Regions from separate parts of the Homo sapiens genome. Here all the other regions are linked to region 1. The links come from fine-mapping of genetic effects on gene expression. A gene starts in region 1. Each other region holds a variant in brackets. All regions are shown on one strand. Distances are between the middles of the regions.

The links. PIP is the estimated chance that this variant, and not a neighbour inherited with it, causes the effect.
Region 2: its variant is fine-mapped to the expression of NT5DC2 in whole blood (TOPMed, PIP above 0.99). The same link has a PIP of 0.9 or more in blood mononuclear cells and monocytes.
Region 3: its variant is fine-mapped to the expression of NT5DC2 in whole blood (INTERVAL, PIP 0.98).
Region 4: its variant is fine-mapped to the expression of NT5DC2 in skeletal muscle (GTEx, PIP above 0.99).

Annotation. Positions count from the first base shown.
Region 1 is chr3:52,531,289-52,536,433 of GRCh38, reverse strand. It overlaps NT5DC2 (5'-nucleotidase domain containing 2), which reads left to right and starts at 2,577. Exons shown (of 14, transcript NM_001134231.2): 1 at 2,577-2,928. The coding sequence starts at 2,697. RefSeq lists silencers at 1-143, 2,178-2,677, 2,738-3,087, 3,118-3,207 and an enhancer at 3,338-3,467.
Region 2 is chr3:52,492,113-52,497,257 of GRCh38, reverse strand. NISCH (nischarin) reads right to left here. Exons shown (of 21, transcript NM_007184.4): 21 at 4,190-5,145. The coding sequence ends at 4,776. STAB1 (stabilin 1) reads right to left here and starts at 1,920. Exons shown (of 69, transcript NM_015136.3): 1 at 1,767-1,920. The coding sequence starts at 1,844. The variant A/G (reference allele first, on the strand shown) is at 2,008.
Region 3 is chr3:52,800,187-52,805,331 of GRCh38, reverse strand. ITIH3 (inter-alpha-trypsin inhibitor heavy chain 3) reads right to left here. Exons shown (of 22, transcript NM_002217.4): 10 at 4,669-4,794; 11 at 4,186-4,367; 12 at 2,813-2,998; 13 at 2,526-2,665; 14 at 1,323-1,477; 15 at 598-606. Among named protein-coding and RNA genes, the nearest start is that of ITIH3, 8.0 kb to the right of the region's middle. The variant C/T (reference allele first, on the strand shown) is at 3,011.
Region 4 is chr3:52,686,476-52,691,620 of GRCh38, reverse strand. It overlaps GNL3 (G protein nucleolar 3), which reads right to left. Exons shown (of 15, transcript NM_014366.5): 2 at 4,794-4,852; 3 at 4,238-4,375; 4 at 4,006-4,119; 5 at 3,429-3,512; 6 at 2,415-2,547; 7 at 917-1,029; 8 at 550-676; 9 at 1-79. It overlaps SNORD136 (small nucleolar RNA, C/D box 136), which reads right to left and starts at 2,734; the gene lies at 2,588-2,734. SNORD19 (small nucleolar RNA, C/D box 19) reads right to left here and starts at 2,381; the gene lies at 2,306-2,381. SNORD19B (small nucleolar RNA, C/D box 19B) reads right to left here and starts at 883; the gene lies at 791-883. It also overlaps SNORD19C. The variant A/G (reference allele first, on the strand shown) is at 3,075.

The DNA.
Region 1 (5,145 bases):
AAAAGGGAAGGACAGCCCACGTGGCGCCGGCCCGGCCCCGCCCCCTGCCTCCCCAGTGCAGGTCTGAGCTCGCAGTTGGCAGCCGCGCCCCCTACTCTGCCACCGCCATTTTTATTCCTAATACCCAGATAGAAGTGATGACCCTCTCTGATGGACTATGTACAGCACCACATTCCAAAATGCAATTATGCAATGCCTTGCGTTTATTTCGGAGACGTGATTGGTGCCTAGACTTCTAAAGTAACAGAATTTGATATGGAGTGTTGAAAGCTGAACTTTATCAATTATCACAGCAAAAATCTAAGTAAGCGCCCCGTGAGAACCCTAAAATTAATAAAAGCTATCTTGTATGGGGCACTTACAGTTCCACAGGCACTTGTAGGCGCTTTATTCACAATAATCGCAGAAGAGCAGTATAAAGAGCATGCACTCTGTTACCAAACCACATCCCTGCTCTACAGGTGCTCCCTTAGCCCATCTGTGCCTCAATTCCCTAAGCCGTAAAACGGAGGCCTTGTTCTGACGCTGTGATAATTTAGTGCGGTAATAGGAATGATGCACTGAACACAACCCTGGAGCATAGTAACTGATTAATATTAGTTAGAATATTCATTATGATGATAATGATTGGCAGAGCCCTCGCTCTTCACATGTATTCCCAAACATGGTTTTTGTTTGTTTCTTGAGACAGGACCTCGCTCTGTCATCCAGGCTGAAGTGCAGTGGCGCAATCTCGGCTCACTGCAACCCCCTCCTCCCCGGCTCAAGCCATCCTCCCACCACTACAGGCGTGCACCACCACGCCCGGCTAATTTTTTAATTTTTTGTAGAGATGGGGGTCCCACTATATTGGCCAGGCTAGTCTCAAACTCCTGGGCTCAAGAGATCCTCCTGCCTTGGCCTCCCAAAGTGCTGTGATTACAGGCGTGAGCCACCGCGCCGAGTCTGAACGTGTATTGTTTATATGTAGTCTCTTAACTGACAGTTTAAGAGACTATGCCAGGTAGAAGCAGGGCTCTGACTTAAGAGACTTCACTTGTAATTGCGTCTTCTCATGCTGCTGTGCTTGCTGAAGATAACTGAAAGGGGCTGTCACCCCATTACCTAGGACTAAAGTAAAAACTGCAGGAACAGCTTTGAGAAAGGAGACAACTATTAGACAATCTAAGGAAGGTAAATGAAAGCTTAGAACCAATGAGACGATTTGGTGATATGGACACAAAATATACAAAAGCAGACTGGAGAGAGCAAGCAGGGCCCCAGAAAGGGTCATAGGGCCCGCAGTGAGCAGCCTGAGCTGCCGCCTGTACAACCGGCTTTGGAGGGCCAGCCCGGAAGCCTCTTTCTCCTCCGGGTAGACTCCGCCCAAGCATGCACACACACAGGCTTGATGCTCGCTCCCGTTTCTACAGGAGGTTTTGACGGCTGGATGCTGCAGGGCATCCCCTCGCCTGGAGGAGGTTCACTTGTGGCCAGGTTCCCAGCACACCCACTTGCTCACTGGGGCCCTGGGGACACCGCCACACTCGAGCCCATCCTACGGCCTCAATCCTTACCAGTCCCCAGGCCATGGACTGCCACACTGTAGGTCTTCAATCAAGGTTCAGTGGAGTTTCGAATGTACACACACCCTGAAAGACAGCGCGGCCACCTCAGAAAACAACGCGCGCCCAGCTGGCTCCCCTCCGACAGGGCCCACGGCTACTGGGTCGGCCTCCTCCGGACCCTGAGCACAGCCTGGTATGCGTGCGGGCTCGGAATACGGATCTGAGCAGAAGAAATGCGAGTGGAGAGCGGTTCTGCGCAGGAAAGAGGAATTTTGTTGGAAAGCCTGTCGACGTTGCTAGAAAAGACCACAGCATCTCACGAGGGGCGTGCGCCGGGAAACCGGGAGTTGACGGGTCAGTGCGGCCAGTTGCCGAGGTCCGAACCAAGCGGGCGCAGTGACCGTGGCCCACAACCCTGCAGCGCACGGCCCAGTCACCTGGTTAGCGGACGTCGGCTGCCCTGCAGGCCCCTCGGCCTCCCCCAGCGTGGGCCTGGCACCGGGAAGCGCGGGAAGGGCTCTTTATTTGTTAGACCAGTGAGTGGACTGGCCCGGGCTCTGGTCAGTGGGCAGTCAGTCCGAGCCCAGAGACCGGGGACCAGGACCCCGGGAAAGGAGAGCACCAGGACTAGGGGGAGGAGCGGAGGATCTGGGGTCAGAAGCATCCAGAGGCGCAGGGTAGGGCGGGCGGACCCGGGAGCGGAGAGGGCGGCAGAGGACCCGGGGGCCCGGGGGGTACCCGTCGCGCTCCGGCTGTCTCCTCTCGGCGCCTCGGCCGTCCGGAGCCTCTCAGGGACGGCCGCTCTTAGGCCCGCTGACTTCCAGGGCTGGGGCCAGGGAAAGGCGCCGCCATCGCCGGCGTGACGGCCGAAGGGGGGCGCAGAGTCCTCCCGGACCGCGCCGGAGACTGGCTGGGGGAGGGGGCTGGGGAGCCCTCCCCGCCCCGCCCCGCCCCGCCGGGTCCGGGGCCTCCCGCCCCCCGGGCCGAGGGGCGCGCCCATTGGCAGGCCGGGCTCCGCGCGCCGCACCCATTGGCCGGCCGCCGTGAGGAGCACGAGGCCACCGTGGCGGGCGCGCAGTCGGAGGGCGGCGGGCGGCGGGCGGCGGGCTGGCCGAGGGCAGCGCGGGCGGCGGGCGGCGCGCGGTGGGCATGGCGGGTGCGGGGCTGCGGGCGGCCGCTCGGCGCTGGCTGCTGTGCGGAGGCCACGGCGGGCCGCGAGCCGCCTCGTCCTCGCCCTCCTGCCCTGGGTGCGGCCCCCCGGGTCCCGGCGCCCACTGCCCCGGCGTCCCGCGCTCCGCGCCCGCCCAGGCACCCACCAGCGGCGCCGACCTCAGCGCGCACCTATGGGCTCGCTACCAGGACATGCGGAGACTGGTGCACGGTGGGTGAGCCGGGGCGGGACGTGCGCCGGGGTGTCTTCCGCGTGGACTGATGGACGGACCGAGCCCCAGGGTGCCGCTCCTCCGGGGAAACACCCAGTGGGGCTCGCCAGGGCCCCGGAGCGCAAGGGCCGGGCGGCTTTTCGCGAGAAGCTCCGGCCGTTCATCCCGGGGGCCTCTGGGGCGCCCCGACGCCCGGGGGCGGGCGGGAGGTTTGTTCCCCGGCTCGGTCTGCAGGAGCTCGGGGCTCCTCGAGCGGCTGCCGGAGTGCTGGGCCCCCGCCGACTTCCTTCGGGGTCCCGCCTGCCGTGAAGCCGCGGTGGAAACGCCCCCAACCCCTTGTTCTCGGCCAACCCTTAGTTGGGGCGGGAGAGTGCTGTGGACAAAGCCAGCGAGCGGCGCCGGGCGGAACGGGCTCCTAGGGACGGCCGGACCAAAGGGGACACCGGTTGGACTTCCCAGACACACCTCGATGTCGCCCTGGAGGTCCGGCCCCCTCTCAGCCCGGGCAGCGAAGGCTGGGAGAAGCCAAGTCACCCCCGCCCCCTGGAGCCCAGACTAGGGCTGCAAAGGGCACTTAACCTCCCTGTCCCTGCTCTCTCCCTCTGAGAAATGGCGTGAGGAGGCTGAGGCCCCTTCTTGGAGGGGGCCGGCTGGGGCGCACTAGTGAGGCCCCAGAGCTGAGAGTGCTGGACATCTGCCTGCTTGTCTCCGTGGGTCTAGTGGGGCCCTGCTTCTGCAGCAGACAGATATGGTTTGGGTCGTGACCCTATCACTGACCAGTTGGGTGGTCCCCCAGCAAGTCTCACCCTCTCTCAAGCATGAAACGCAGTCCTGGGGCCTCTCTGTCCCAGGGTTGGGTGATGACTGGAACCAGGCCAAGCAGGGCAGGAGAGCTTCCGGAGGAACCCCCAGGGGTGACGTGGCTTTTGTTGTCTGATAAAACAAAGTAGCCCTGTCTGGAAGATTCTAACTGGCTAGACAGGGGTTTTCACTCCGGCTTTGTGGGGTGGCGGAGAATCACTTCTTGACCAGTAAAGGCAGGATGGTAAAGGCCCCTGAGGAATGGTCATTTTGAAGCCTTGGGCATCTGTCCACCCTCGAGGTCCCAGGTTGAGTTTGTGTCTGTGGAGGGGCGGCCCAGCGTTATTTAAGAAGTCTTTGCTCTGGGCCCGGAGAAGACCCTCAGAGTATCCTGAGAAGCCTGCCTTGGAGGTTTCAGGGAGGACTACGGGGATCTACTGGACATTGTCCTCCTGGGCCTGCCTGCATCTTTGGAGCCTCACAGCCCTCTAAGCTCCTCTTGTCATACAAGGAGCAAAGTCATTCCCACCAAGATCCCATGGTGAGCACCAGCAGGAGCCAGCTTCACACCTCTGGGCGCCGAGGTCCGCTTTGGGCTAATGCCCACGGGCTGAGAGCAGTGCAACAGGTCCCTCAGTCCCCCAGCCCCCACCCACCTGGCCTCAGTGTGGTGACATTGGGAGGCTAGGCTGAGAGGCAGAGTGATTAATGCAGGTGGGGTGACTTGAATGGTGATCTCAACCCCGGTGCCTGTTACTGGGTGGTTTGGAGCAAGTGACTTCACCTCCCTGAGCCCCAGTTTCTTCCTCCGGACGATGGGGGAATAAGTGGGACTGCCTCACAGGATGGGAGTGAGGATTGAACAAGACAAGCCTCTAAGGCATCCACAAGTGTCACGGCTGCTAGGGAGCAGTTGGCCCTGGGACCTGGCACCATGGGCAGGTGTGGGAGCTAGGGCTGAGGAGAAAGGAGGGCAATTGCTGGACATGCTGAGTGGGACACACCCTCAGCTGCCCCACCCCCACCCCCCACCCACACCACCTATGGAAGGGAACAGGCTTCTGTCGCCCCAGAGCCAAGGTTCTTCTAGTCTAGAAATCAGGCCAGGCCACCAGGCCCTGTGGCTGTTTCCACATCCTGCTTTGTTCCTGGGAGGACTGTCTGCCCCTGGGCCCCTGGGAACATCCTTAGGGGCAGAGGTGAAGGCCTGGACCTAACCAGGACTCTGTGCCAGCAAGGGGCTGCACTGCCGAGCAGACCCTCCCAGGTCTTCTGCACCAAGAGTCACAGTCACAGTTGGTATCCGGGAACTCAGGGCCATGGGAAGGGCAAGGCCCAGGGTCCTAGTGACACACCAGAACCCTGGGCCTTGAGGGGTGGCTCAGAAGCAGCTCCCTAGAGCGTTGCAGTCAACT
Region 2 (5,145 bases), 39 kb after region 1:
AGCACTTTGGGAGGCTGAGGCAGGTGGATTACCTGAGGTCAGGAGTTACAGACCAGCCTGGTCAACATGGTGAAACTAAAAATTCAAAAATTAGCTGGGTGTGGTGGCGGGCGCCTGTAATCCCAGTTCTCGGGAGGCTGAGGCAGGAGAATCGCTTGAACCTGGGAGGTGGAGATTTCACTGAGCCGAGATCACGCCACTGCCCTCCAGCCTGGGCTACAGAGCGAGACTCCACCTCAAAAGAAAAAAAGTCTGAACATGTTCAGTAGAGATGCCATTTTATTTCCTGAATATTTTCAATCCAGGGTTGGTTGAACCCAAGTACAGGGTGCACAGATACAGAGGGCCAACTGCACTTACAGTGGCTCTCGGCTATGCAGGGTGCTGGGATAGAGGCCACGTAGCTGTGTTAGAGTGGCCAGCACTGCTGCAGCCCCATCCACAAGGAGTGGTCAGAGCCATAGGTCTCTGACAAGGAAAAAACTCGAATCTGAGGCCCCTCACTGACCTCTGTCCTCACTGCCCAGAGCATGAGGAGGTGGCGGAGGCCTTTGAAATTCCCTTGCATGGTACACAGGGGGAAACTGAGTTAAGGGGAGGGCAGGAGCTTACCTGCAGGGCTCTCAGCACAGCCCTGGAACCCTTGGCTCTTCCCCCATCACTGTCGCCTTCTCAGCCTCATATCTTCCTGTCCCCAGCCCTGGCCTGGTCCTGAAGCTGGTGAGGCCCTTCTCCCTGCTGCCTCTCTGAGGGACCACAGGCATCCAAGAGAAAGCGCCTGATGGTGGCAGGGGGCCTAGGCCCCTGGCTGGACTGCCTGTGGGATCCTGGGCAAGTCCTCCCCGCTCTGGACTTTAGTCTGGCCATCTGTGCCATGGGGATAGTGGTTGCTGCTCCAGGAGGCAGACACGCTCAGCCTCACAGGAGAGAGACTACCCCCATCACCAGGGTGGGAGGCTCTTCCAGAAGCTCCCAGAGGCCCCTACCATGGGGCCTGAGCAGACCTGCAGCCAGGAGCCTGTCACAGGGACCTGACCGAGGGGCTGGCTGTGGCTGCATACCAGGACCCTGTCTGCTCGCCAGCACACACGGATGGCCATCACAGGCAGGGGTTTGGAGCATGGCTTTAGAGTGGGAATGGCCTGTCCCCATCATCCTAGGGCTTCGGGTTCCTCACGAGGAGGACAGGAGGAGTTGCCCCGAGGCTGTGAGGATTCAAGGGGACCTGCCCGGGGCTGTGGCTGCTCTGTGGCAGCTCTGAGGCTGAAGTGTGTCCTTGCCAGCTGCTCATAACCCCGGACACTAAGGGTGAGTGACTCATTCTGCTTCCCGGTACTCTTGGGGCTGGACACAGGCACACACATGTGCACACACTTGCCCCACGTGAATCTGTAGTCCTCGGGGGTTGGAGGTGATCACATCTTCAACCCCCAGGTGAGGGCCACATAAGACCTGGGCCTCCGTCTGGGCCAGAAGGGCAGGACAGGCCTGCCTCTGTACACTTCAGCTGCACGCTGGGGAGCCCCGGCCCCGCATAGTCAGAGGAGGGTGGGCTGACACACCCCTGAACCCTGGGTGGCTGGACGCAGACCTCAGACTGGGGAGGTGGGCACAATAGCCAGCCCCCAGGCCTGCTAAGAGGCCAGACAGGCGCCAGCTGCGGTTTCTCCCCAGGCCCCTGCCCCTCCATGTCAGTCCCTCCCTGTTCCCACCGCTGGCCGGCAGGGCCCAGACGCCGTGTGCCCCTGCGACTGGCTCACACTTACCTGCCCCCTGACGAAGCTGAAGCCTGCCAGGCAGAAGGCCAGGAGGCAGAGTGGGAGGAGGCCCCGGGGCCCCGCCATGGCTGGTGGGCACGCTGTCCAGGACAGAGTCGGGGCGTAGGGAATGAGCTCTAGGAGGCAGGCACAGCACAGGCAGGCGGGACGGGGCGGGCAGTGGCCTTAAAAGCAGCCCGGAGGCCCCGCCAGCTCACCCCCACAGGAACCCGCCAGGATTTCCTCCTGC[A/G]TATCAGCAGCCTGCAGGCGGAAGGGAAGGTGCTGGCCACTGACCCCCCATGGGCGGCCTGAGCCCTGCTCGGGGCTTCCCGGCTGGGACCCTCCTGGCATCACAACCTGGAAGTCCAGGCCACCATGAGCCCCGGGACCTGGGCTCTATCAGAGGTTCTGAAGCAAATCCAAAGGCACACGTGAACGAGTCCCCCGCCTGCGAGCCCAGTGTGTTTCATTCAGAGGCTCCTGGGGTGCTGGTCGGCGGAAGGCAGGGCAGCCCCTGAATGGGTCTGTCTGTTCCTGCCTCCACCTTTCCAACTCCAGGGCGCTCATGGGGCTCTGACTCGCTACAGGCACCCTGCTAGCCCACCAGACCCACATCCCCTCACTAGCCCCAGCCACTCCTGAGCCGCTGGTCCTGCCCGCCAACCCCCATCCACCCTCCCTGCCTCCCTATCTGCCCTCCACTCAGCAGCCCATGCTCAGCCAGCTTGCTGCAGCACCTCCAAACCCCTCTCCAGCTGGCTGGTCTCTCTGAACTCTCCCCAGACAGGTCTGCTCCAGCCGCGCAGGCCTCTCTGCTCCTTCAGTGAGCTCTCCCGGCATGTGCTGCTACCCTAGATTGTCACACTCTGGCTCCTTCTCACAGGTGGTCTCAGGTCAAGGGCCACCACTTCAGAGCGCCTCCCTGGTCTCAGCCTGCAGGTGGCCCTGCACCTGGTTCACCTGGCAGCACCAGCCACCAGCTGACATTGGCTTGTTTCATTTGTCTCCCCTGGAACATTGGCTGTGGAAGAGTAGGGGCGCTGTCTGGCTGATTCGCACAGTGGATGCTCAATACACGTGTGCAGAAGGAATAAATGAATGGAGGTGGCTACTTTTATGATCCCTCTGTTACTGGTGGGGAAACTGAGGCTCAGAGGGGCTGGGTAGCTTGTCTGAGGTAATCAGTTTTCATATCCAATCCCAGGGCTACTGTCTGAAGCCACCACTGCCTGCACAGCCAGCACCCCCAAGAGGTGCAGTGGGCCCAGGCTGAGGGCCTCTGCGTGCCAGGGCTGCACGTGGTGGGCCTTGCCTCCAGTTGTCACTACCCCCAACTGCAGACGGCGTAACAGTTGGGGAGACAGGAGTGGGCCAGAGCCCGGTGGCCATCTGTAAATGCTTTGGTAAAGGCCAGGTTGGGGAAAGTTTCTCCTCCCCAGCACACCTCCACTCCCATCAGTTTGGAGGGGCCTTCAGGCAGGCCTGAGATCTGGCTGGGATGGGGGTTGCAAGGGGAAACCCTCCCCACATTCCCCACACCCACAGTCTTCCTGGGGGTGAAGGGTCCTCCAGGCAGGACCCCCACTCTGCTGGCACCAAGGGAAACGGGGGAACAGAAGCAGGCCTGGGACCCAGGCTGGCCACGCCACCCACCTCTCCACAGCCCTGCCTGGCCTGGCTGCCCCAAGGTCCTGGGGACTGAGGCTCCTGGCTGGGCCAGGATGAGTTATGTGGGGCTCATAGGCCCTGCTCTGGCAGCAGGAATGGGGTTGGGGAAGAGTGTGGCATGGGGTTGGCTACCAAAATCCCAGGTCCTACCTCAGCAGGCTCCCTGAAGCAACCCTCAGGGAGGGGCCCATGAGCCTCATGTTTCAGGGACATGAAGACAGACACAGATGGGTATGTGCCCCTCCCTCCACTGTCCACCACCTGGGTCCACCTCCCCACAGACCTCCCCTGCTGCCATTCAAGGGCCACCTTGGTGAGATGCCCCGGCCCCCACCAGCCACCTCAGACTCTGGGATCTCTCTGTCCTCCTCGCCCCTCCCCCACTCTCAACAGGGGTTGTGAAACAGGTGGGGTTGGGCCCAGGGGTGACTGACACATAAGACCTGCAGGACAGCCTGAAGAGGGTGGCATGCCCCGCACCCAGGCAGAGGGGCAGCGGCTGGTGTGTCAGGGGTGCCCTGAGGAGTTTCTTGTTTGCCCTGCGCTCATGGTTTAGCCACAGCCCAGCATGGCACTGTCCAGAGAGGCCATGGCCCTGTCATGCCTCCCATGTTCCAAGAAGCATCTGGCTCCTGGAGGGCTGCTCCTTCCTTTCCCCCAACCCCTCACCCTCCTGTCTCCAGGGCACCCTCCCTCCCCCATGTGACCACGCCCTGGACGGAAGCCCTGCTGGGATCCCAGTGACCCTTGGTTTAGAAGATGCAGACGGTGTCAAACTCTGCTTTATTGGAATAGAGAATACAGGCAGCAGGAATCACGCTTGGTGCTGGCAGCTCCAGGTCCCCTGCCCCCACGGGCTCTCCCACTTGTCTGGATCAGGGGAGACCTCCACTTTGAAGAACAATATGGGGTGGGAGCTTCCAATGTGCATTCTGCTACCAGCCTCAGGATTAGCAGCAAGATGCCAACAGCAACAGCAACAGCAACAGCAACAGCAACAGCAACAAAGGACTGGACTCGACACTTCAGGAAAGGACGTGTAGAAGAGAAAGTCAGACCCACAGTGTCACGTGTTAACAACGGTCCCACAACAGCAGACACGACACTGGTGTGCACGGCTGTACCACCTGTGGGAGGCTGACAGCACACCGACAGCCCTGAGGGGCCCGGCATTCTCACTCCCAACATGAGAAAGAATTAACACAACACACACACATGTTCACATTCTCTGCGAGGACAGTCAAATTAAGGTACCAAAGGGAGGATAAAACATTTTTAGAGAACACAAAAGCCTGCTGCCCTGCCCCAGTAGGCGTCAGGCTGGACACGACAGGCTGGCTGTGGCCTGGGCTAGCCGGTGAGCTCGACAGGCAGCTCACGGCCACACAGGGCCTCCCACTGGCGAGCCAACAGCGAGATGAGCTTCTCTCTGCTCTCAGCACTGGGGACAAACACCTGCCACTGGACTTCACGGCCCTGGCTGGCTCTAGCCGGGCCACCTGGCACCTCCCCAAAGTGGTCCAGGGTGACACTGCCCATGAGGTCATGACCTTGCACGTCATCGAAGACGAGGGTGAGGGCCTGCGGGTAGGTCTGGTAGCCCATGAGCACTCGGTCCAGGTCCCGGACGCGGCGGCCATCGTCCAGCCGGTACCTGTCTCTCTGCGGCGGCTCTTTGGCAAACTCGGGCAGTGGGTAGTGGACACAGTCCTCATCCAGG
Region 3 (5,145 bases), 270 kb before region 1:
GATGGCCCAGTCCAAATGTGCCAGTCCAAATGGAGGTGGGGCAGGCCAGTAGGGGCTGGGGAGGCCCTGCCTAGTGGCAGGGAGTTTGTGAGGTTCCAGTTTTGTGGTGAGAGAGGCACAGAGGACTGTGATCCCCAGCAATTCCCAGCATGGGCATTGGGGCCAGACTGCCTTGGCCTAAGTACCAGCTTGGCCATCTGCTGAGTCTGTGAGCAAACAGACTGAGCAAATTAACCCCCCGTGCCTCAATTTCCCCATTGTAAAATGGGGATCATAAAAGGGCCCTCTTGGAGGGTTGCTATGGGACTAATGAAGTATAAATGACTGACATGCTAAATTGCTCATTTTTGCAGGTCATAGATACTGTCATACTGATTGTGTCTCCCTGGGCAAGGGAAGCCACCCCCAATTAACTCACAGGGATCCTCAGGCTCAGAGAGGGGCACGTTCATGATTTGGCAATAGGGCTGGGCCTGAGCCCAGGTGTCCCAAGTGTGCCCCCATGGCTGGGGGTCCTATCTTGCTTGGAAAGGCCTCCTCAGTTCTCTCTTGTCTCCCTTCCATAATGCCCAACCCGGTGGCTGGCTAAAGGCTTACCTTCTGCATCTGCAGGTGCAGCAAGGGAGGAAGAAGAGAAATGCATTAGAAGCCATAGGGCACTTGTGAGCAGGGACCAGAGCTGGCTGCTTGGCCGACCAGCCCTAGGCTGTGGGCCTCCCAGCAGCCAGCTCTTCCCCCACTGGGTGTCCCCTGGAACTAGGAGTTCTTGGAAGCCAGAGGCCTGGCCTGGCCAGGCCCAGCTCTTTGCCTCCCATGTCTCCCAATGCCAATCCTCCACCACCACACACAGACCCTGTACCTAGTTGCAGTGGGCATTTGGGACCCCCTGTTGAGTAGGGCAATCTGGGGTCTGGTTGAGGGGGTCCCAGCCTCCAGCTCTCAGGGACTCTTCCCCTAACAATCTCCAGGTGCCTGATAGCCTGCTCCAGGCCTTTCATGTTGGAAGTGCTTCTTCTTGTCTAACTAAGCCCTTCCATGCTGCAGCCTCAGTCCTTTTCCTTGAAATGCCCCATGGGCAGTGTGCCCCCTTTACTCACTTCCCTTTAGAGGTGCAGAGGCTCCTATTCACCCCACACCCCACTGTCCATGCTGACTGCTTCACGCTCCACCCCACTTTCCCCATCCCGTGGCCAGTTTTCCTTCAGATGCCCTACTTCAGCAGGTCTGGGTCTCCCCAGCCTGGCCCACTCCTCCACTGGACACCCAGGTAGGGTGCCCAGCACAGGAGGCCTCCGGGTTCCGGCCTCCATCCCTATCCCCACCTTCCCCAGGCTTGTCGGCAATGGCCCTCTCATCCTCGTTGTCCTCAGGCTTGGTCACCACCATTGAGGTCAGTGGAGTCACAAAGTGATACTTGAGGGACAGGTCCAGGGCCCGGGCCGTGAGGTTCTCCTTCTCCTCGCCATGGGCGTTCTTGCTGTGAGGAGGGGCCAGTCAGGAGGACAGCCTGGAGAGCAGCACCCTGCCCACTTCCCCTGCACTGGAGCAGTGGACACAGCTGGGGATCCCCACTCCACCTTCCCCATTGTGGGGTCCCCCAGGGTACAGCCCAGTTGGGCTCAGAGAAGACTGGCTCACAACTCCCTGGGGCATGTGAACAAGCCCTGTTTCCTTGCTGGACCTTGGTTTCCCCACCTATAAAACGTAAGGACCGGCCGGGCATGGTGGCTCACGCCTGTAATCCCAGCACTTTGGGAGGCCAAGGCGGGTGAATCACCTGAGGTCAGGAGTTCGAGATCAGCCTGGCCAACATGGTGAAACCCCATCTCTACTAAAAATACAAAAATTAGCCAGGCATGGTGGTGCATGCCTGTAATTCCAGCTACTTGGGAGGCTGAGGCAGGAGAATGGCGTGAACCCGGGAGGCGGAGCTTGCAGTGAGCCGAGATCCCGCCACTGCACTCCAGCCTGGGCGACAGAGCGAGACTCCGTCTCAAAAAAAAAAATAATAATAATAAAATAAAATAAATAAATAAATAAATAAATAAATAAATAAATAAATAAAATAAGGGGCTACAACAGCCACTCGCAATGGTGTCCATGTGCAGAGCACTCAGCATGTGCTAGATTGTGTACTAACGGCTTCACAGTCTAATCCCACCCACACCAACACTGACCCTCTCAGTGGGCTCAGCTCTGCCCTCTGGGCACTGAGGGCTGGGATCCCGGCCTTCAGTTCCACTCAGCCTCACCACCCCTGGGCCATGCCCAGTGTGGGCAGCAGGGTGCTGAAGTCCCCCCTACCCCGGGGCACTCCCAGGCTGCTGGCCAGGGGACTTGCCAGCTTGAGCCTTGGGGCTGACAGGATGGGGAGTGGCGGCCTGGGGTTCCTTACAGACTGCTCTACAGACACTTCCTGGGCTGGCCCAAGAAGAGGGCAGGACCGCTGGGACTGCGTATGGGGGTGCCCTTGCATTGGAGCCCAGCCAGGGGTAGGCACAGGTGGGGGCTGGGACTCTGCTCACCGCTTCTCCAGCAGCTGCTCAATGGTGAGGTAGGCCCAGAGCCGCTCAATGTAATTCCCGAAGATGTAGTCCCGCTCCTGCAGGGCCTTCTCCATCTCCTTCATGTCCACCTCCTCTGTGAAGGTCAGGTCGTTGGTGGCCTAGGGTGGGGGTAGAAGGAGGCAAGGGGCTGGAGGCTTGGGTGGATCAGGTTCAGGGGCCACCACTCCTGGACCCTCATGAGGCCAGAGCCCTACCACTGCTGATACCCCATCCCCAGCACACTTCCAGGCCCTGTCCCCACTCACCCCATGGCCCTTCACATCTGCCTTAAAGCTGTTCATGTCCTCGTCCACCAGGCGCCCGGCCACCACGATCTCAGAGCCATCGTAGAAGTGCTGGTAAGTGTTCTGGGTGAGGTCCAGGATAGCGTTCTCGGGGTACTCCATCTCCACACCCGTCAGCAGTGGGTTGGCCACCTCCTCATAGAAGCCCTGAAGTTCGCA[C/T]GGGGCCAGTCATCTCAAGCCCCAGGTCAGGCTCCCACTGATGCTGCAGCTGGGCATCCATGCCCCAGGGCTGGGCCCGTCCTAATGGCTCCTAATGTTCACTCTGCCTGTCCCTGACTGCGTCCTTCAGTCTGTGGGGGCCTCCCCCCGGCAACTCCCTGCTCCCAGATAGACACGAGGAAGACTAGAAAGGACAGTTTCAGAAGTATTTCCTATTAAAAAAAAAAAGAAATATGAAAGGACAGAGTTCTTAGCACAAAGAAAGTATTTAAGGAATGTCTGTTGGAATGAAAGCAAGAAGGAGAAAAGGAAGTAAGAGAGGCAGATGATAAAGTGATGTGGACAGGAGTGCAGAGATCTGGAGACAGAGGAGGGAGGGAATGGGGTGGTCGCCCTGCAGAGGTGGAGATGCCATTACCTGCCTAGAGAAGGAACAAAATTGCTAGATTCAGCAAATGCAAAGACAGGACGTGCAGCTACATTGAAGGTCAAATAAACAATGAATAATTTTTTAGTGTAGGTATGTCTGTTATGGGTTGAATAGCGTACTCCTAAAGTTCAACCTTATTTGGTGATAGGGTCTACAAAATAAGGTCATGAGTATGGGCCCTAATCCAATATGATTGATGTCCTTATTAAAAGGGGAGTTGGACACAGACATCCAGAGGGAAGACATGTGCAGACACAGGGAGAAGACAGCCATTGATAAGCCATGGAGAAAAGGAAAGAGGCCTAGAAAGATCTGCCCTCATAGCCCTCAGAAGGAACCAACCCACCGCCACATGGATCTGGGATGTCCGGGCTCTGGAACTGGGAGACAATACGTTTCTCTCATTGAAGCCACTTGGTACTTTGGTATGGCAGCCGCCATACACTAATACAATGTCCTGTGCAATATTTGGGGCATACTTACACTACAAAAATTCATTATTTATCAGAAATTCATATTGAACCAGATGTCCTGTGTTTGCTCTGATAATCCTGTTGAAGAAACGGGCCTGTTGTGTAGCCCAAGGACAAAATCAGAATCTTTACTGATGGGTAAGAGATAGTCAGAGGTGGATTTTGACCCAAGACGAAGCTCTTCCTAATAACTAGAACTGTCACCTTATGGAGCAGCTGTCTGAGGAAGTAGTGAGCTCCTTATGCCCGGAAGTGTGCAAGACAAGGCATACCTGCAACTGCAAATCGGCATCAGAGTCCTCATAAATGCGCCGGGCAAACCCATGGTTCTCCAGGGCCATGTTCTCCAGGAAGTTATAATTCAGATTGTTGCCAAAGCCCAGGTTATACAAGGGGAACTTGCCCCCGATGGCATTCCGCACATTCTCTTGGATTTTTTCGGGTCTGCTCTCACCTGTTGGAGAAGGGGGTGTTCACAGTCCAGCCCCAGCCCTGGGGATGGTCTAGACCAGCTCTGTCTGGGGAGACCGGACTCCTGCACATGCAGAGTTGCTGGAGTCACGACCATGAGCCCTTGTGGGGCAGGTGGTGGAGAGCCCTGGCAGAGGGAGGCAGGACCCTGCCCTTGAGGGGCTCCCAGACCACAGGGAACCCAGGGAAGAGCTGCCCCAGGTTTTCCAATGAGCCAGCTACAGAGCCAGGAGCAGCAGCCAAGCACTCCAGCCCTAGCTCAAAACCATGCCCGTGCTCCTCACCAACATTGGCATCCCCATCAGTCAGCATGATGACAATGGAGGTGCTCCTCTCTGGGATTCTGTGCTCCTCTCGGGCCTTGTTCAGCATACTGATGCCCCTCAGCAGCCCGTCATTGATGTTGGTCACTGGGACACAGACAGACAGCACCGTGGGAGGGTGTCCTCAGGGTGCCAGTGTGCAGACAGGCTGGAGCGGAGGAGGCCGGGACAGCCGGCCCCACTCATGTGCCCAAGGACCCTATCTGCCAGCCCATGGTGGTACTCAGCAAACAATGAATGAACCACCACATGAACAAACAAACAAACAACTTCCACTTTCAAATGGGGATGAAAGGCACATGGTGAAGACGAAAAGCACATGGTGATTGTGAAAGCCCTTTGGCAGAGTTGGATGGACTCCCAGTACCTCTTGCTGGGAGGAGAGGGGAGCAGTGTAGACATCGTGCCATTTTCCATATGAAACAGGGCCAAGAAGAA
Region 4 (5,145 bases), 160 kb before region 1:
CCCATGGATACACCAACATTACACATCTGTTCTTGTTTTAAGCTATTGATAATGCTGCTTTTCCCCACATTTGGGAAACCTACAAATAAATGGGAAATCCAGATATAAAAAGCATTATATGTTGGCACTTATGAAATTTTCACTGCCTAATTTTCCATTTCCCTGATGTTTAGGGCAAGATCAGAGTTGGATCTCAGTGTCTTCACTTCAATACTAAGACCAATTTTAGTTTCTTCATTTCTTGCACAAGTAATGCAAAGGCAGGAAAATACTATAAATTCAAACAAACCAAGAACTTTTAGAAACCAGCTTCCTACAGTAATCAGTCCCAACAAAAAACCTGAATCTGGCAGCAGTTGTGTAAGTTTTTTTCTTTAAATTGTGTGTGGTTATGTGCTTTCAGTAAGGTATAAGCAAGAAGCTAGTATTTGAGTGAGCCTTTTACTTGACAACAACTCCATACACTGCTGCTTGGGCACTTGGAGAGCTGGCTAAACTTCTTAACTATTTCAACACTTAAAAAGTAAAAAGTAATGAACTGAAACTCACCAATTACTCCAACCCGAATGGCTTTGCTGCAAGTTTCCTGAAAACCTCCAAGAAGTTTCCAAAGGCCCTCTTTCCCAAAGCAGACTTCACTTCTGAATGGAGCAGCATTCTTCTTTGCCTTCACACGCTAAAATTCCAAATAGTTGAATTATTCTGGCAACTTACCTGATAAATTTCAACAAACCCCAAGCAATCAGGCTCCAGAGCCCAGCTCTTAAGATAACTACATTGCCTTTCAGATGATCTCTGGCTGAAATCAGAGTTGGATCTTGTAATTTTTCATTCACTTAAATCAAGATTTTGTACACTCATCATATTTCAACCAAAATCTGAAAGAATCACATTTCTTACCACTAATAAAGGATACCTTGGTTATCTTCCCTTTATCCTTTGGTTTTGTTGAGGCTCTGAACACCACTGTTGGCAATTCTTTCTTCAAATAATTTAGCCAGCTCTCCAAATTCTCCTTTGGTACCAGATCTGATAGCAATTAGAAATAAGACATTTGCGGCCAGGCACGGTGGCTCACGCCTGTAATCCCAGCACTTTGGGAGGCCGAGACAGGCGGATCACGAGTTCAGGAGATCAAGACCATCCTGGCTAACACGATAAAACCCCGTCTCTACTAAAAATACAAAAAAATTAGCTGGGCGTGGTGGTGGGCACCTGTAGTCCCAGCTACTCGGGAGGCTGAGGCAGGAGAACGGCGTGAACCCGGGAGGTGGAGCTTGCAGTGAGCTGAGATGGCGCCACTGCACTCCAGCCTGGGTGACACAGCAAGCCTCCATCTCAAAAAGAAAAAAAGAAAAAGACATTTGCTCCAATGTGGCTATTTTGTTGAGATGCATTTGCAAAATCTGGCAACTATAGATTTTACTCTGGTTTACATTTTCCCAGTCCTTTCAAAAGGATTTAACTAGAAAATCAGGGCAGGGTAAGCTCCCCTACCATACTGCCCGTATCTTAACAGAGCTCAGCATCTGCACTTCTCTATTTCAATTCCCCTTGTATTGCTCACTTGAAAACTTCAGGACAGACTCAACGTCTGGATTACAACCCTACTAACCCTAGAGCTATGTTTCCAGAATTTACCTTTAGCTAGCAGCCAATTGTTTCTTCATTTTTGAGACGAAGTGTTGTTGCCCAGGCTGGAGTGCAGTGGCACAGTATCGGCTCACTGCAACCTCCGCCTCCCGGGTTCAAGCAATTCTCCTGCCTCAGCCTTCCGAGTAGCTGGGACTACAAGTGCCCATCATCATGCCCGGCTAATATTTGTATTTTAGTAGAGATGGGGTTTCGCCGTGTTGGCCAGGCTTTTCTCGAACTCCTGGCCTCAAGTGATGTGCCCACTTCAGCCTCCCAAGCAGCCAATTGTTTCTTAACCCCAACAACAATTTTAGATCTCATTCCCATTTTCTGCTTTGTAATTCTCTGTTCTGGGTTTTCTTTTTCCTGCTGCTCAAACTCAGATGCATAATTATGCATTTCATTTAAATATTTTGTCACATACGTTCCAATTTATTTCACTCTTGAACTAATACCCGACATTGTGTAGGTGTGGGGAATTTGTCACACTGTCATCACTTCCTAGATGAAATATACTACACAATAAGCTGGGTATAGCAGCTTACACTCTTTATTTAAAAGATGGTAAATACTGAATGGCAAAAGAATAGTAGAAACCAGTTGAGTCAGTTGTAAAAGTCACCTGGCTCCCCACTGCCTAGCACTGTCTCTGGCAAAGTGCACGTACTCTGGCTTTGCTGAGATCAGAGTTGGATCTAATCAGTCTTCAGTGACTATCAGACTGTTTCCTCGTACCTCACCCATGTACACAGAAGACAAAGGGTACCCTCTTTACTCACCTGATTTATTTAATATAAGTACCAGCTTTTTCTGTCCACTCTGGACAATGGCCTCTTCTACCTGAGGACATCTGCAACCAAGAGGATCTCTGGCATCCAACACCTCTAGGACAACATCGGAGGCTTCAATCACCTATCAAGGAAAAAATGACCAGAACTACATTATCAAGGAGAAAATGATCAGAACTACATCCCTTGTTCTGGTAATACCTTCCACAAGAGAGTACTGGCATTATCCATTTAGCAACAGGGTGAGCTCAGAGTTGGATCTCATGTCTTCACTTTGGTATGAAGAATGTTGACCCTCATCATTTCTCACACAGGAAAGTAAAACATAGGCTTGCTCAGCAGTCTCTGATCAAGATGGATTTCAAAAATGCAAATATCCCTGTCTGAATCCTCCCATAGTGAATTATATAGTTTGATAGGTCCTTCTGGCCTTGCCAAAAGCTGCTGAGGGGCAGTCAGGTTCTATCCATGGGGGAGTGAGCTTGGGAAAATGGATGTTGGGGATGGGAGTGCTGGAGAGCAACTACACCAAGTTGTCCTCCTTCACTTAGGTTTCAACAGAGTACTTTAGAGACCTTTAGCCTGACACTGCTTACTCCAATGTACCTTTCTCAATCTCAACACTATGTCAACGTTTTTTTTTAATGTTGT[A/G]AATCATGCTTACAGGCAGAACCAGTTTTGTGCAAATATTTAGAACCAAAGAAACTATTTCCGTCAGGTAAACATAGCAGGAAAGGCATTAAACAGCATAAGCTAGAGTCGAGTCACGAAATGATTTGTTGGTGAAAAGGTGGGAGGAGGGAGAGGATCAGGAAAGATAACTAATGTCGTACTAGGCTTAATACCTGGGTGATGAAATAATCTGTACAGCAAACCCCTATGACGCAAGTTTACCCATATAACAAACCTGCACATGCACCCTTCATCTTAAAAGGTTAAAAAAAAAATGACTTGAGTCTTTTAAACCTCATTACTACTGTCAGACACTGACCTAGGCTAAGATACCTTTTTAAGTTCTTGGCAGTACAGCTTCTTTGAATTCTGTTTGCCCGACTTGGCTTTGTTCTCAGTTTTGCAAAGCCCAAACTCCTAGAGGATAAAGGGGGAAATAACACAAAATTAGAAGTAGAGCAACTGTAACCTCTAACTCCATTTTCCACAGCTGAGTAGCAGCCCTTGCAGTTGTTAAATAGGTAAGATGGAGTCTGAACTCAGTTGTCTTCCTCCCAAGAAGCTCAGCAGCCTGTGGATGTGCTTTTATTTCTGCATCAGAACTCATCTCTCAGCCAGGCACAACAGCCCACACCTGTAATACCAGAAACTTCGGGAGGCTGAGTTGGGTGGATCACTTGAGACCAGCCTTGGCAATATAGTGAAAGCCCGTGTCTGCTAAAAAAAATTAGCCAGGCGTGATGGTGTGCTTCTGTAGTCCCAGCTACTTGGAGACTGAGGTGGTAAGACTGCTTGAGCCTGGGTGGTCCAGGTTGCAGTGAGTTGTGATTGTGCCACTGCACTCAGGCCCAAGCAAAAAAACCAAAATCAAAACCCCTGATCTCTCATTCATAAAGAGACCTAATCATACCTTTTCCATAGGTTCCACATTTGATGGCTTAATATCAGGATTAGTTTCAAGTTTTCTTTTCTTTTCTAGTTCCTTCTGCCTGTCAAGTTTCTGCTGCTGTTTTAGTTCTTCAAGCTGTCAGAGCCATAAGGGAAATAGGTGAACCAGTGACTAGTGTTGTTACCTTACTCTGAAAAATATCACACATAACACACTACACCACTCAATGAAAATTCTGGCTAACATAACTTACCCTCTGTTTCCTTAGCTCAGCTTCCCTAAGAAGAGCCTCCTTAAAGGGAGCACTGTTTGGAACTCCTGGGTCTTTCCTAGGCTTCTTGTGACCCCGCTTTTTAGCCTCCTTTCTTAATTTTCGATGATGTTCTCGAACCTATTAAAATAAAGAGATTTTGTCTGCTTACAAAAATATCTTTATACTTAAGCAGAATTCAAGTGAGAAACCAATCTGGCTGCAATTTAGTTATGCCTATAAAATGTCCTAGGAAAATGGAGCTTTAATTGGAATCTTACAAAGTAATGCATATGTAAGTATAAAACAGCAAGAAATTGTAACTAGAAGGCTCTCTATGCAGAGATTAACATGCTGAACAAATTTAGAGACTTATCACCAAATCACTGCACTTTCTCACAGCTGCACTCCTGATGCCTAAGAGCTTGTGCCCATGGTCAGTCTATCCAATGCCATTTCCCAAAACCAAATCACATTAACCCAGACTTTCCCGCAAAGGAACAGGGCAAAATCAGTTTAGCAATGTGTTTGGTACAGCTCTCTCAAGCACTACACTTACCTTTTTTTGGATTTTATACCGCTTATGGCAGGTCATGCGTTTACTTGCTTTCTTTAACTCTACAAAGAAACACATCACAAATCTGTTAACCCAAATGATTAGTTCTGGGTTAACGCACTATGGAGTTATATCCTTTTCTTGTGTTATTGGCTACCAAACCTAACGTTAAGTCTAATGCGAAATGCCTAATGCAAACATACGTGCTACTTTCAAATCCCAGAGAATTAAATTCAGTAGATCCAGAATGGAGTCAAAATTCCCTGCACTTACCCTCACAATATTAGAATGGGATCATACACAACAGCGTATGAGACACAAAACGACAACCACTTCGTGTCAAACAGCACGAATC